Homo sapiens: one gene and its partners. The protein of the gene in region 1 interacts with the protein of each later gene in a pairwise test. Each region holds a gene or a part of one and is shown on either strand. Other genes may lie near its edges. The genes, in order: ERN1, PELI3 and BAHD1.

What was found.
Region 2: the proteins of ERN1 (region 1) and PELI3 interact in binary tests that used the Homo sapiens proteins (3 or more experiments, as listed by UniProt).
Region 3: the proteins of ERN1 (region 1) and BAHD1 interact in binary tests that used the Homo sapiens proteins (3 or more experiments, as listed by UniProt).

The regions. Positions count from the first base shown.
Region 1 is NC_000017.11:64,046,467-64,050,211, forward strand, and holds part of ERN1 (serine/threonine-protein kinase/endoribonuclease IRE1 precursor), read right to left. Parts: intron 2,737-3,745; coding exon 2,589-2,736; intron 1,520-2,588; coding exon 1,392-1,519; intron 1-1,391. UniProt on the Homo sapiens protein: Serine/threonine-protein kinase and endoribonuclease that acts as a key sensor for the endoplasmic reticulum unfolded protein response (UPR).
Region 2 is NC_000011.10:66,464,851-66,468,595, forward strand, and holds the start of PELI3 (E3 ubiquitin-protein ligase pellino homolog 3), read left to right. Parts: upstream 1-2,054; 5' UTR 2,055-2,177; intron 2,178-2,279; exon of another isoform or gene 2,280-2,708; intron 2,709-3,277; 5' UTR 3,278-3,278; coding exon 3,279-3,430; intron 3,431-3,745. UniProt on the Homo sapiens protein: E3 ubiquitin ligase catalyzing the covalent attachment of ubiquitin moieties onto substrate proteins. Involved in the TLR and IL-1 signaling pathways via interaction with the complex containing IRAK kinases and TRAF6.
Region 3 is NC_000015.10:40,457,906-40,461,650, reverse strand, and holds part of BAHD1 (bromo adjacent homology domain-containing 1 protein), read right to left. Parts: intron 3,201-3,745; coding exon of another isoform or gene 3,187-3,200; coding exon 1,755-3,186; intron 1-1,754.

The DNA of each region.
Region 1 (3,745 bases):
ACCTGGTTAGTTTTCACAAGTCCCTGGAAGACATATGGACTTGAGAATTTTCACATTATGTCCATGGACACAGTGACCAATCCATATGCTACAACATGGAAGACAGCATTAAACTCTTCCCAACCCGATCCATCTGAATGGTTGGGCCAGGCAGCGTCCTCCCTAGGAGGCAGGGACACAGTAGTGAATGCAGCAGTCAAGCACTCCTGTCCTCGAGGAGCTTACATTCTGGGGGCTTCCCTCTGGCCAAGGCCCCAGTCAGACCCCAGGAGAGCATGATGGTCACTTCTCAGTACGGTGCCCACCAAGCTGCACTCTGCCTGGACCCAAGGGGAAAAGCACTGCCCCACAAGCCTGCTTTCAGAGCCACGTGCTGGGCAGGAGGCGTTCGGGTGAGTTATGTTCAATTCATACATGGAAGACTTTGAAAAACACATTACCTCTTCAAAAGTCACCTGACATTGTCACAAAGCTTTAAAACAGTCAAATCACCAAAGGAGTTCTAACTTTGCAGAACCTATTTTAAGCAAAAGGAGATCTGGGCCAAGACTGTGTAAAAGATGATAGAAACAAATACAATATAAGAAAGCACTGAAATTTATGACACTTGGGCTGGGCCTGGTGGCTCATGCCTGTAATCCCAGCACTTTGGGAGGCTGAGGCGGGCAGATCACCTGAGGTCCGGAGTTCAAGACCAGCCTGGCCAACATGGTGAAACCCCATCTCTACTAAAAATACAAAAAAACTTAGGCAGGCGTGGTGGTGCATATCTGTAATCCCAGCTACTCAGGAAGCTGAGGCAGGAGAATCACTTGAACCCGGGAGGCAGAGGTTGCAGTGAGCCAAGATTGCACCACTGTACTCCAGCCTGGGTAACGGAGTGAAACGCTGTCTCAAAAAAAATAAAAATAAATAAATAAGCTTATGACACTTGAATGAAATTATATGATGCCTGAGATTTACTTCGAAATAACCTGGGGTGGGGAGAGGGTGAAGGTTAATATTTATTGAACCTGAGGGATGAATAAAGGAGTGCTCATTATAGCATTTAAACATTTATGTATTATATATTTGGAAATTCCATAATATAAAGCTTAACCATTATGGCACATCCATATGATAGAATACTATGGTCATTGGAATTTTAGAACTTTAACATGAAAGAAACTTAAAATATCATGTACAGTTAAAAAAAGGGATTCTGAAACTGTATATACGGTTAGATCCCAATTATACTTTTATATATGAAGAAAACATTAAAACATCAGCCATGATTATCTTCCAGTTTTAGGGTAATGGGCAATTTATTTTATTCTTTGTCCTTTTCTGTATTTTCAAAATCTGAAAAACATTAAATGAAGACTCTGGATAAAGAGAACAGACGTCTCTACCTGGAAGAACTGGAGCTGCTTCTCTAGGCTCCAGAAGAACGGGTGTTTGAGCACATGCTTCGCTGAGGGGCGTTTCTGAGGATCCATCGCAATCATCTTCTCTATCAATTCACGTGCAATGACGTCTTCTATAAAGGAGGAAAATAAGCAACTCATGACTACCAGTCCAAAGCCACAGTGAAATACCAAAAACTTTAAAAAGCTGCACACCCTCTCATTTATGATTCTATTTACAGGAATTTATTCCAATAAAATAATTAGGAACAGACACAAAACCTCAGCCAAAGAGGTGAGTCCTCACTGCATGGTTTGTGAAGGAAGTGACTGTAAACATCCAGTATCAGAGGCCCAAGTGGATACACTACGGTGCCTCCCTACGCTGGGCCATGAGCTGTTAAAGTGCGGCTGTGACTAAATATGGATTGACGTGGAGAGAGATTCAAGGTGACGCTGAAAAACGTGCATGCTGCAAAACAGTATGCAGGATTTAACTGTATTTTTATAAAATATGCAATCACGTCTAGATAAATGACTGGAATAACGTATATGCAAAGGTATCAATAGCCATCATTCATCCCTGTATAATGGGAATATATGGGCCTTTATGCTAATCTGTGTTTTCTATAATAAGAAAAATTAAGCATAAACAAAACAATAATTTAGTTGTAATTTTTTCAAAAGGCAGCACTGGAGTGTCATGGGCCAATTACCACCCAGGAAAACCTGAAGTCTGGAAGAAAGACTTGTTGCACCCATACCAGGAGACCAGGAGGGTGAGGATAAAGCTTGTCTGTCCCCAGCCCAGCACAGACTGCACCTACTGACCACTCGCCATCCCAAGAGAGAAGACAATTTGTCTTCCCAAATGCCAGTGCAGGAAGGGACCTCTGATTATTCAACCCTCATGTCACCAGGTAGAAAAAGAAGGTCTCCAAAGGGGGCTTTGCCTAGGTCACACAAGTAGTTGGTGACCTGGAGGAACCTTGGAGCATCTCAGCTTTAGAAGGTGGCGCCCCAGAGATAACCCTACCAACCCTCTACCAGATTTGGCACAAGTCTGGAGGTCCTGAGGCCTGCGGGGTGAGCAGCTGGGGCACCACGGCCTCTGTGAGTGCAAAGGTGGCACCAGCCCAGCTCTGCAGGGCCACCTGAGGCAGCTGAGGAGCTGCTCCCAACCCCAACCCCTGGACCGCTCACCGTGCTTCTCTGGGTGCAAGCAGTCAAGGCTGCAGGCACCCAGGAGGATGTTGGCCTGCCGCTGCAGGGACTTGCCAAAAGGGTGGCTGCCCTCAGAGATTACGTAGTAAAAGACGCAGCCTGCAGAAAAGATGTCCACCGTGTAGGTCTGAAAAGAGACATGAGGCGTGAGAGGTCTGGGAGCAGAGTTTTCATCCTCACTCACAGTCAGGGAGGGAGGAGCATTGCTGCTGCTTCTGCCACCTAGAAGGTGTCCTGGGAGAATCAGCTGACATATGTGAGCTGCACAGAGCAGCGAGGGCTAACCTGCAGCACTGCATGGGTGTCAGAGGTCCCAGTGGAGAACCTGGGCTTGGAGCCACCTGGAAGCCCCTGGTTCCCTCTCATGTGAGATGAGGACACTGACAGCATGGGGCTGTTGTCAAAAGAGATGCATTAATATGCAAAAATGGTTGCTTACGACAGTGCTTGGCCCATCAAAAGCCCTCCTGGCTGTTATATATTCCTTACCCCCAACACGAAAGTGCTCACAGACAGGGTCTCTGTGTCGTTGCTTCCCTGCTGTACCCCCAGGGCCCAGAATGGTGCCTGCACACAGTAGGTATCAAAATTGCTAATAAGTGAATAAAACAGCTTATGATTCAAAAACAGCCCTAGAAAGAAACTATCTGACAAGTTACCAAGGAGGTCATGTTTGATGTTAATCCGAGAAAGCCTCTCACTTATCCCATGAAACCATTCTGTGTCTACAGAATAGCTTCCTTCGAGGGAAATGTACGTTTGTGTTTTTTAGCTCATGCTACCTGGGGTGTAATACCAAGGTGGTTCCTGAGCACAGCTTGGGTCCCTGTTAGTAGGCCCTGCCTCTGAGATTCTCCACCAGGTGAAGTGAGGGTCTAGTGTGAGGAAGCAGGGGCTCATCACCTCCCATGCTGGAGGAGACACACCTTGAACAACACAGCACTCTCATTCAGCCTCACAACAACCTTGTGAGGCGAGCAGAGCAAATGCTTTCATCCCCAGATGAGAACGTGGACAGAAAGGTTGCATGACAAGCTCAGGGTCACTGCTGGATGTGATAAACCAGGATGGGACTCAGGTCTTCCAATCTCCAAACCTACCATGCTTTATTCTACCTCACTGGATTTTCCCTTAGG
Region 2 (3,745 bases), on another chromosome or scaffold:
AGCTTAGTGAGATTAAGAAGCTGGAGTTCTTGGAGCAGAGCGCTGGATTTAGAGCCAGAAGCCAAGGTTGGAACTTAGGCATCTGCTACTGGTGTCCTAACTCTCCCTTCCTCTCCCTTACTTGGGCAATCCTGGTGTCGGGCCCACCTCAGCCTCCCTGAGGCCTGATGGTCTGGCTGTGCCACCATGCAGCTCCAATCCCAGTACTGCCCCAGGAGAAATCCCTGCCTCCTCCTCCAGTGAGTCTTGGTGATCCCTCTCAGACCTTCCTCCATGCAGTCCAGTGTCAGGTGGAAGCACTGGGGCTCCTGTGAAGCATCAGCTCCACATCTGCCTGGCTTGTGACCTGGGGCAAGTTTCTTCTTCTGCCTGAGCCTCAGCTTCCTGGTGTGTAAATTGGGGATTATAACAGGGATTCAGTATATATTCACTGAGGACCTGCTCTGGCAGGCAATGCATTAAAAGCTGGGGGTACACAAGGGAGTGAGGCTGTCCCAGGGTCCCCGTGCACACCCAGCACAATGGACGCCTCTGGTGGCATCAGTGAGGGCAGCTATCCTGTGTCACAGGGTTTGTGTGACCTGCAGCCAGCAGCCCAGCGGTCTGGTGGTGTCCTGCTTGGTGGAAGTCTCGCAGGGAGATTCTCTGTGACTAACGAGTGTCTTTTCCCCTAAAGGATGTGCCGTCGGCTGCTTTCTTGTTTCATCTAGCCGCTGGGCCCCAGAACAGTTGGCAAAGCAGTTGGTATCTTTGGCTATTTTTAGGTGGAGGAGTTAGCGGGGTGGATATAGTAGGGCCCCAGGGGAGTCTGGTAGATGGGGAACTTCAGGTGCAACAAGTTTGTGGGGGTGGGAGTGGCAGCGGCTCCCTCTCAGGAATGTTTAGGCAAACTAAACATGCATCCTTCATAATGGAAGTCAAAAGCCACCTCCTCTGTGCAGTCTTCCTTGATTTTCTCATTAAACACCCCCACCGCCCCCCACAAGACCAAAGACTTGATCTGGAACTATAATCCAGCCTTTATAGTTCCAGACCAAGAGTACTGAGCAATAGGGACCTTACCTGATGCAGACAAGGTTTCTCTTCTGCACCTCTGAGGCTCCATCCCTAGTCAGAACGACAAGGTACGAAGTTAGGAGTTGAGACTGAAGCCACTCATACAGCTGAGATTCTCTCTTGGCCCGTTTCTAGCAAACTACAACAAGCAAGTCACTTTTGTAAATCTATTTCCTCATCTGTAAAATGGGCAACTATCGTGCCTGCCTCCCAGGATTAAAGTAAAGGGTTTAATTTGCTCAAAGCACAGCGCACAGCGCCTAACGTAGACTGATAGATCTCTCGCAAGCCCCAGGCCCAGAAGGGGCGGTGCTCCCCCAAAACTCTCTTTCCTTTGCAGCACAGCGGGGGGTGTGTGCATCCTGGCGGAGGGGAGGGGACTGAGGGGAGGGGAATGGGGGGTGCCCGAGCTGGGCTGGAAGACAGGTCTGCGACTCTGGTCAACTGCAGCTGCTTTCCCCGGCCTCCACCGCTGCCGCACACCCCCTTTGCCTTTAGCATTTTCCTCCTCTCCTCTAATTGCGTGGCGTCCCCAGATGGTAGGCGGGGTGTCGGAGCTGGGGGTGCGTAGTCCCGGGCCTAAGGCTAGGGAAGGGGCCTCCAGCGCCGTGTGAGGGCCCTGACCGACAGTGGGGAGGGGCGCCCATGTCTCTGGGAGAACCCCGGAGTCCCCGGAAATGGAGGCGGAGTTTGGGGAGTCTGAAATGGGGGAGGGGTCGTGTAGACTACGGGGGAGTCCTGAGCCGGCTAGGAGGGGCAAGGGAGTCCCTCAGACGGAGTGGAGAGCGGGGCTTCCCTGGTCAGAGGGCGGTACCAGGGGAAGGGCGTGGTCTCCTGCGAAGGGGCGGAGCTCCGCCTACGAAGGCTGAGCATCGCCGCAAGAGGCGGAGTCTGGAGCGAGGCGGAGCTCTCCTAGGGGCGGGGAAAATGGGGCGGGGCCTCCGGACAGGGGGCGGAGCGTGGCTGTTCGCGCTCATCCCCCTCCCCCGGCCCTGGGTGTCCCCGTGACGAGGCAGCGCGGAGCCGCCGCGGGCCGGGCCCATCCCGCCGCAGCGGCCCGGGGCCGAGCAGGGGCTAGGCGGGGAGGGAGCGGCGCCCAGCGGGGCCCGGAGCGTGGCCAGGTGAGGCCGCCGGGGCGGAGGGGGCGGGGGCTGCGCCAGGCGGGCCCCGGCGGGCGCGGGGGGCGTGTTTGCGTGTCTGGGGGTGGTGGAGGGAGTGGGTCCGAGGGCGGGCGCCGGTGGCTGCTGCGCGCCCGCGCGTCCCTGCGGTCGCGGGTGCGGGTGGTCTCTGCGCCGTCCGGGCCCGGGGCGTGCGGGGCCGTGCACGCGCGCGTGTTGTGCGGAGGGGCCGCCGGGTGTGGACCTGCGTAGGTGCTGGGCCGCGGTTCCCGTTCTGCCCGCCCGGGGCGCAGGGCGCGGGCCTGCCCCGGCGCGGTCCCTCTGGCGCGGGGATGTTTTCCAAACGGGCTGCCTGCGGGAGACGGCTGTGCTGCAGCCCGAGCTCGAGGGGGGAGCGCCGCCTCCGCAGGCCTCCTGAGACCCGGGCGGCTGGGGACGCAGACAGACACCTGAGGGAGGGAAGAGCGCGCACCCAGGAGGAGTCTATTGGCCTACCCGCAGGGGGAGGCCGAGATGGGGAGACTGAGGCAGATGGTGAGGCGGAGGCGGGCAGACAGGCAGAGATGGGGAATGGGGGGAGAGAGACGGCAAAAAGGACAGCGGCTGGGAGGACAGAGAGTCATTGAGAAAGCAGATGGACAGACAGAGGCCTAGACCTCAAAGGGGCAAGAAAGATTCAGATGGACAGGTAGATTCAAAGAACCTGTCAGAGAGGCTAAATCAGAGGTCCAGAGGCTAAGAGCTATAAGCAGGAACTGAGTCTGAGATGAGGGGTAACGGCCCCCAACTCATTGGGTGCCCCGCTTTGAAGCACATCCCAGACTGGGATCTTGGCCAAAAAGCAGCCTCTGGCCACCCCAAGTTGGTCCATCTCTTTGGCACCACTGAATATCCTGACTCTCTTCACTGTGCCACCCCTCCCTGGTATCCCAGCAACCTCGGGCAGTTTAGAGGAGGCAGAGGGGAAGTGGTTGCCATAGCAGTAGAGGCGGTGAAAGGTCACCCTTGCCTTAGCCTAGGCGGCCCTGCAGCAGGCTGCAGCTGGAATTGAGCCGGGCTGGGGTGGGAACCTACAAAGCTCTTTTCTCTCCCACTCTGCCCAGAATGGTGCTGGAAGGAAACCCTGAAGTGGGGTCCCCCCGAACCTCAGACCTCCAGCACCGGGGGAACAAGGGCTCTTGCGTTCTCTCCTCTCCCGGTGAAGATGCGCAGCCAGGCGAGGAGCCCATCAAGTATGGTGAACTCATCGTCCTGGGGTGAGCATCCCTGGCCTAGAAGGGGTGAAGCACCAGACACCCACCCAACGCAGCCAGAACAAGGGCCCGACCCCTCCTCCCCCCACATAGGGCCTTCAGCTGTTTGTCCCTCCTCACCTTCCTAGCTGAAAGACAAAATTGACCAAACCCACCTCAATTCATAATTATTATTTTATCTTCCCATTTTTCACAAAGTACTGTGACAACTCTAACCACCCAACTTCCTGATCAGATGAGAAAAATGTTAACACCAGCTGCCTTTCCTAAAGCACCTAGTGTGTGTGGTGTGGGGTGAAGAACTCTGGTTCTCCAGCA
Region 3 (3,745 bases), on another chromosome or scaffold:
TTTTTTTTTTTGAGACAGAGTCTCGCTCTGTTGCCCAGGCTAGAGTGCAGTGGTGCTATCTTGGCTCACTGCAACCTCCGCCTCTCGGGTTCAAGCATTTCTCCTGCCTCAGCCTCCTGAGTAGCTGGGATTACAGGTGCCCATCACCACACCCAGCTAATTTTTTTGTATGTTTAGTAGAGATAGGGTTTCACCATGTTAGACAGGCTGGTCTCAACCTACTGAGCTCAGGCAATCTGCCCGCCTCAGCCTCCCAAAGTGCTAGGATTACAGGCATGAGCCACCGCGCCTGGCCCTGATATTAATTTTCTAAGGCTTTCATAATGCTTGGGAATAGGGGTTCTAGAATCAGCCTGGGTTCTGCCACTTACTAGCCATGTGACTTCAGGCAAGTCACTCTGCCCCTCAGAGCAACTGGCTGGTTTTCTTACGAACACATTAACTCATTTCATCCTTACAAAAACCCTGTGAGATAGGTATCATTACACCCATTTTATAGTTAAGAAAACTGAGACACAGAGCAGTTACTGACTCGCCCATAGTCACATGGCTAGGAAAGTGGGGGAGAACATTTCACTCCAGGCAGTCTGGCTTCGGAGTCTGTGCTCAATTACATGCCAAGCAGCCTCCCATATGTAAAGCACTCAGAACAGTGCCTGGTACATGGTGTTTACTGGTGTCCTTATTATTAGGGAGAGGGGATAAGGGTCTAGACTTGGGGAATGGCACAAAAAAAGAAGGAAAACCCCAAGCAGCAGCCTGTTCTCATGTCATAAGAACTCTAACTCAAGCCACAACCTGAAACAACCAGTCTGGCCAGGGCCAACTGGTCTATAAAGTTGTTTTATAGACCCCTACAAGAAAGGATGTCAGGGGAAGGGAGATCTGGAAGGTCCAGCCCTCACCTCCCCAGCAGCAGGGCAGACCTGCTGGCCAGCATGTCTCATTTCCACCCAGGAGGCAGGCAGGGAGCCTGAAGAGGCAGGTGAGGATACCTCTGCCAGTTTAGGGAAGAGAAATGATTCTGGGAGTGTCTCAACAGCCGGAGCATGGGCCTCTCAGGTGTCTGGGTCTTGTCAGGCAGGCAGACACCAAAGCTGTGGGCCCTGATCGCATTCCATCCATGTCAGGGAACTCTGCTTGTCTGTTCTCATGGTGCACCCTCTCTATCCACACCCAGCAAAGTGATGCTCAGTCTGGGCACTTCTCTTTCAATGCCTCTATAGCCAGGGCAAAGCTGCCCTGTGCAGTAGGTACCACCTACTGAGCCTGGTACCTACCACCTTTCCCATGAATGCTGAACTTGGCCAGCATGCAGAGAGTACTGGTTTCTAGAAACTAGGGAATTCTAGCTTTCCTCAAGGAGGGTAGAAGGGCCGTGAGAACAATTTGGTAAAAGTCCTAATTCCAATATCTAACCTGCTCTTCAGAGTCTAAGAACGGGTATCCCAATGAGGAGAGAAGAGAGGCCTTCCTGTGGCCTGTACCACTGCAATGCTACCTAACTGCCAGGCCAAGAATCTCCAAAGGTAGCCTGGGCAGAGCAAGGCTGTCCAGAGCTATACGGGCCCTGTTCTTGGGAATGCTCCTCGGCTTGGGGCACAGACTACGGGAGTTCTCACTTCTGAAAGCCCCCTACCTTCCAGTTAGCAGCCAGACCCCAAGGGAGACCCCTGCTCAGATCAACAGCCCAACCTCCTGGGATGCCATGTCTCCGAGACTCCCCAGTACATCTTGGGCCCAGGAAGCCTCACCTGCTGCAAAAGGCATTTTGTATGGGCAGCCGCCACAGGTAGTGCCAGCGTGGGTAACAGACAGGGGCAACACTCCGCAGATGCTGTAGCCATTCACTCCAGTGTCCTCGCTAGAGCAGTAGCGAGAGGAGCCCCAGGGAGGGTGCTGGAAAGGGGTGCCTGAGGGCACTGAGCTCGGAGCTAAGAGGAGCCCCTCCTCGTGAGGTGCAGCCACTGGGGACAGCTTGCCCTCAGGAAGCATGGGGCAGGGCGAGTAGCCCCCACACTGCAGCCCCTCTTGGCCACAGTACAGGTAGAAGCTGCCTAGTGCAGTGAGCTCAGGCCCAACACACAGGCCATTGTAGTCGGCGGGGTTGCCAGGCATCGGCAGCGGCGACAGCTGAGGTGTGGGGAAAGAGGGCTGATGCAGTTCCTGCTTAGGGGCAGGTGACTCCTCGCCTGGGCGCCCAGGCTCCGGCTTCAGAGCCGCCTGTCCACCCATCAGCAGGGGCAGGTGAGGGCGCAGCCCCAAAGGGCTCTCCAGAGCCTTGCTCAGGGGCTGATGAGATGGCTGGACGGATGGCCCACAAGGAGTTGCAGATGGCCATGGTTCATCAGGGCAGCCTTGCCAGCCAGGTGGGCCTGCAGCCTCCCCAGAGCTGGCCCCCTGCCAAGCCTTGGGATAGTTCTTGCCATTGACCTTGGGCCACTTTGGCCTCGGGGCCTTGGGTGCTGGGGGCTCAGTGGAGCGCCCATCTACTTCTGCATGGGCACGAGGCAGCCGCAGGGGTAGCTCCCGCTCCTGGCTCAGTTTTAGGAAAGCAGCTGCGTTCAGGCTAGCCAGTCTCTTGGGAGCTGGGTCTCCATCTCGGCGGGGACCTTCATCGGGTGCTGGCTCTGGAGACAGGTCCCGACTTCCTCCTCCAAGGTCCCCCAGCCGGGGCCGCTTCTTGGAGGAGGACCAGCCCCCAGTAGCACGATCACGGTCACGGCTGCGGTGGGGATCCCCTGCTCGACTGCGGCGGGTGCCTGCCAGGCTGCTGGTGTCCTCTCGCTCCAGCAGCAGGTTATTGAGAGCTTCAGCATTGAGGGAGGCCAGGCGCCGCTTGCGGGGCTGGGCAAGGCCAGGGTCTTCACTGGATGGGGCCGGGCTGGGGGGCTTGGGCAGGTCAGGCGGTAGCTCATCAGCCTCATCTGCACTCCGGGGACCGGCCACATTCTCCAGGCGAGTCAGCAGCACTTTGCAGGCCTTGGGCTTCTCAGGAACCAATGGGCGCTTACGAAGTGGGTAATTCTTGCGGCGCCCTGTGAGGTGACCTGGGCTCTCGGGCATGCCTGGCTCCACACCCTCAACCCCCTGCTCCATGTTGCTGTCTTCCATCTGCAGGGGCTCTCGGCGGCCAGTGAGGCCCGAACTCAGCATGGGAAGGGACTTTCTCCGAGTGTGTGTCATGGAGTACTTCCAACCTGCAGGACAGAAGGTGGGCAATGAGAGAAGCCCTCTCTGGCCTGCTCCTGCCTGCTTTCTCTCCCACTGCAGCCTACCCAGCCCCAGGTGCAGTGATCCTGGCCTACAACTACCCTGTCTCCAGTATGGATTTTCCTGGGACTCCCTTTCCAGAGTGTGAAGGGGCAGTGGAATCAAGCTACCAGCAGCTGTGCAAGGACTGGTTCCTCCTCTTTCCTTTTAGCCTAGGGTATCTCTGAACTAAGCCCCTGAAGAGCCTAGGGAGCAAGGCAGACCCCAGGGACAGGGGATAGGAGGAGCTGGTGGCAAAGCTCTTTGTTCTCTCCCCCTGTCCTTCTCTCACTAGATATTCATCACAGGATAGGAAGAGGCTCTGAAGACAGAGCCTCCCAAGATGGGGGACTGGGTGGTAGAAGTCCATTTATTCTTTCTTCTTTTTTTCTTTTTTTGAGAGACGGAGTCTCGCTGGAGTGCATTGGTGAGATCTTGGCTCACTGCAAGCTCCGCCTCCCAGGTTCACGCCATTCTCCTGCCTCAGCCTCTC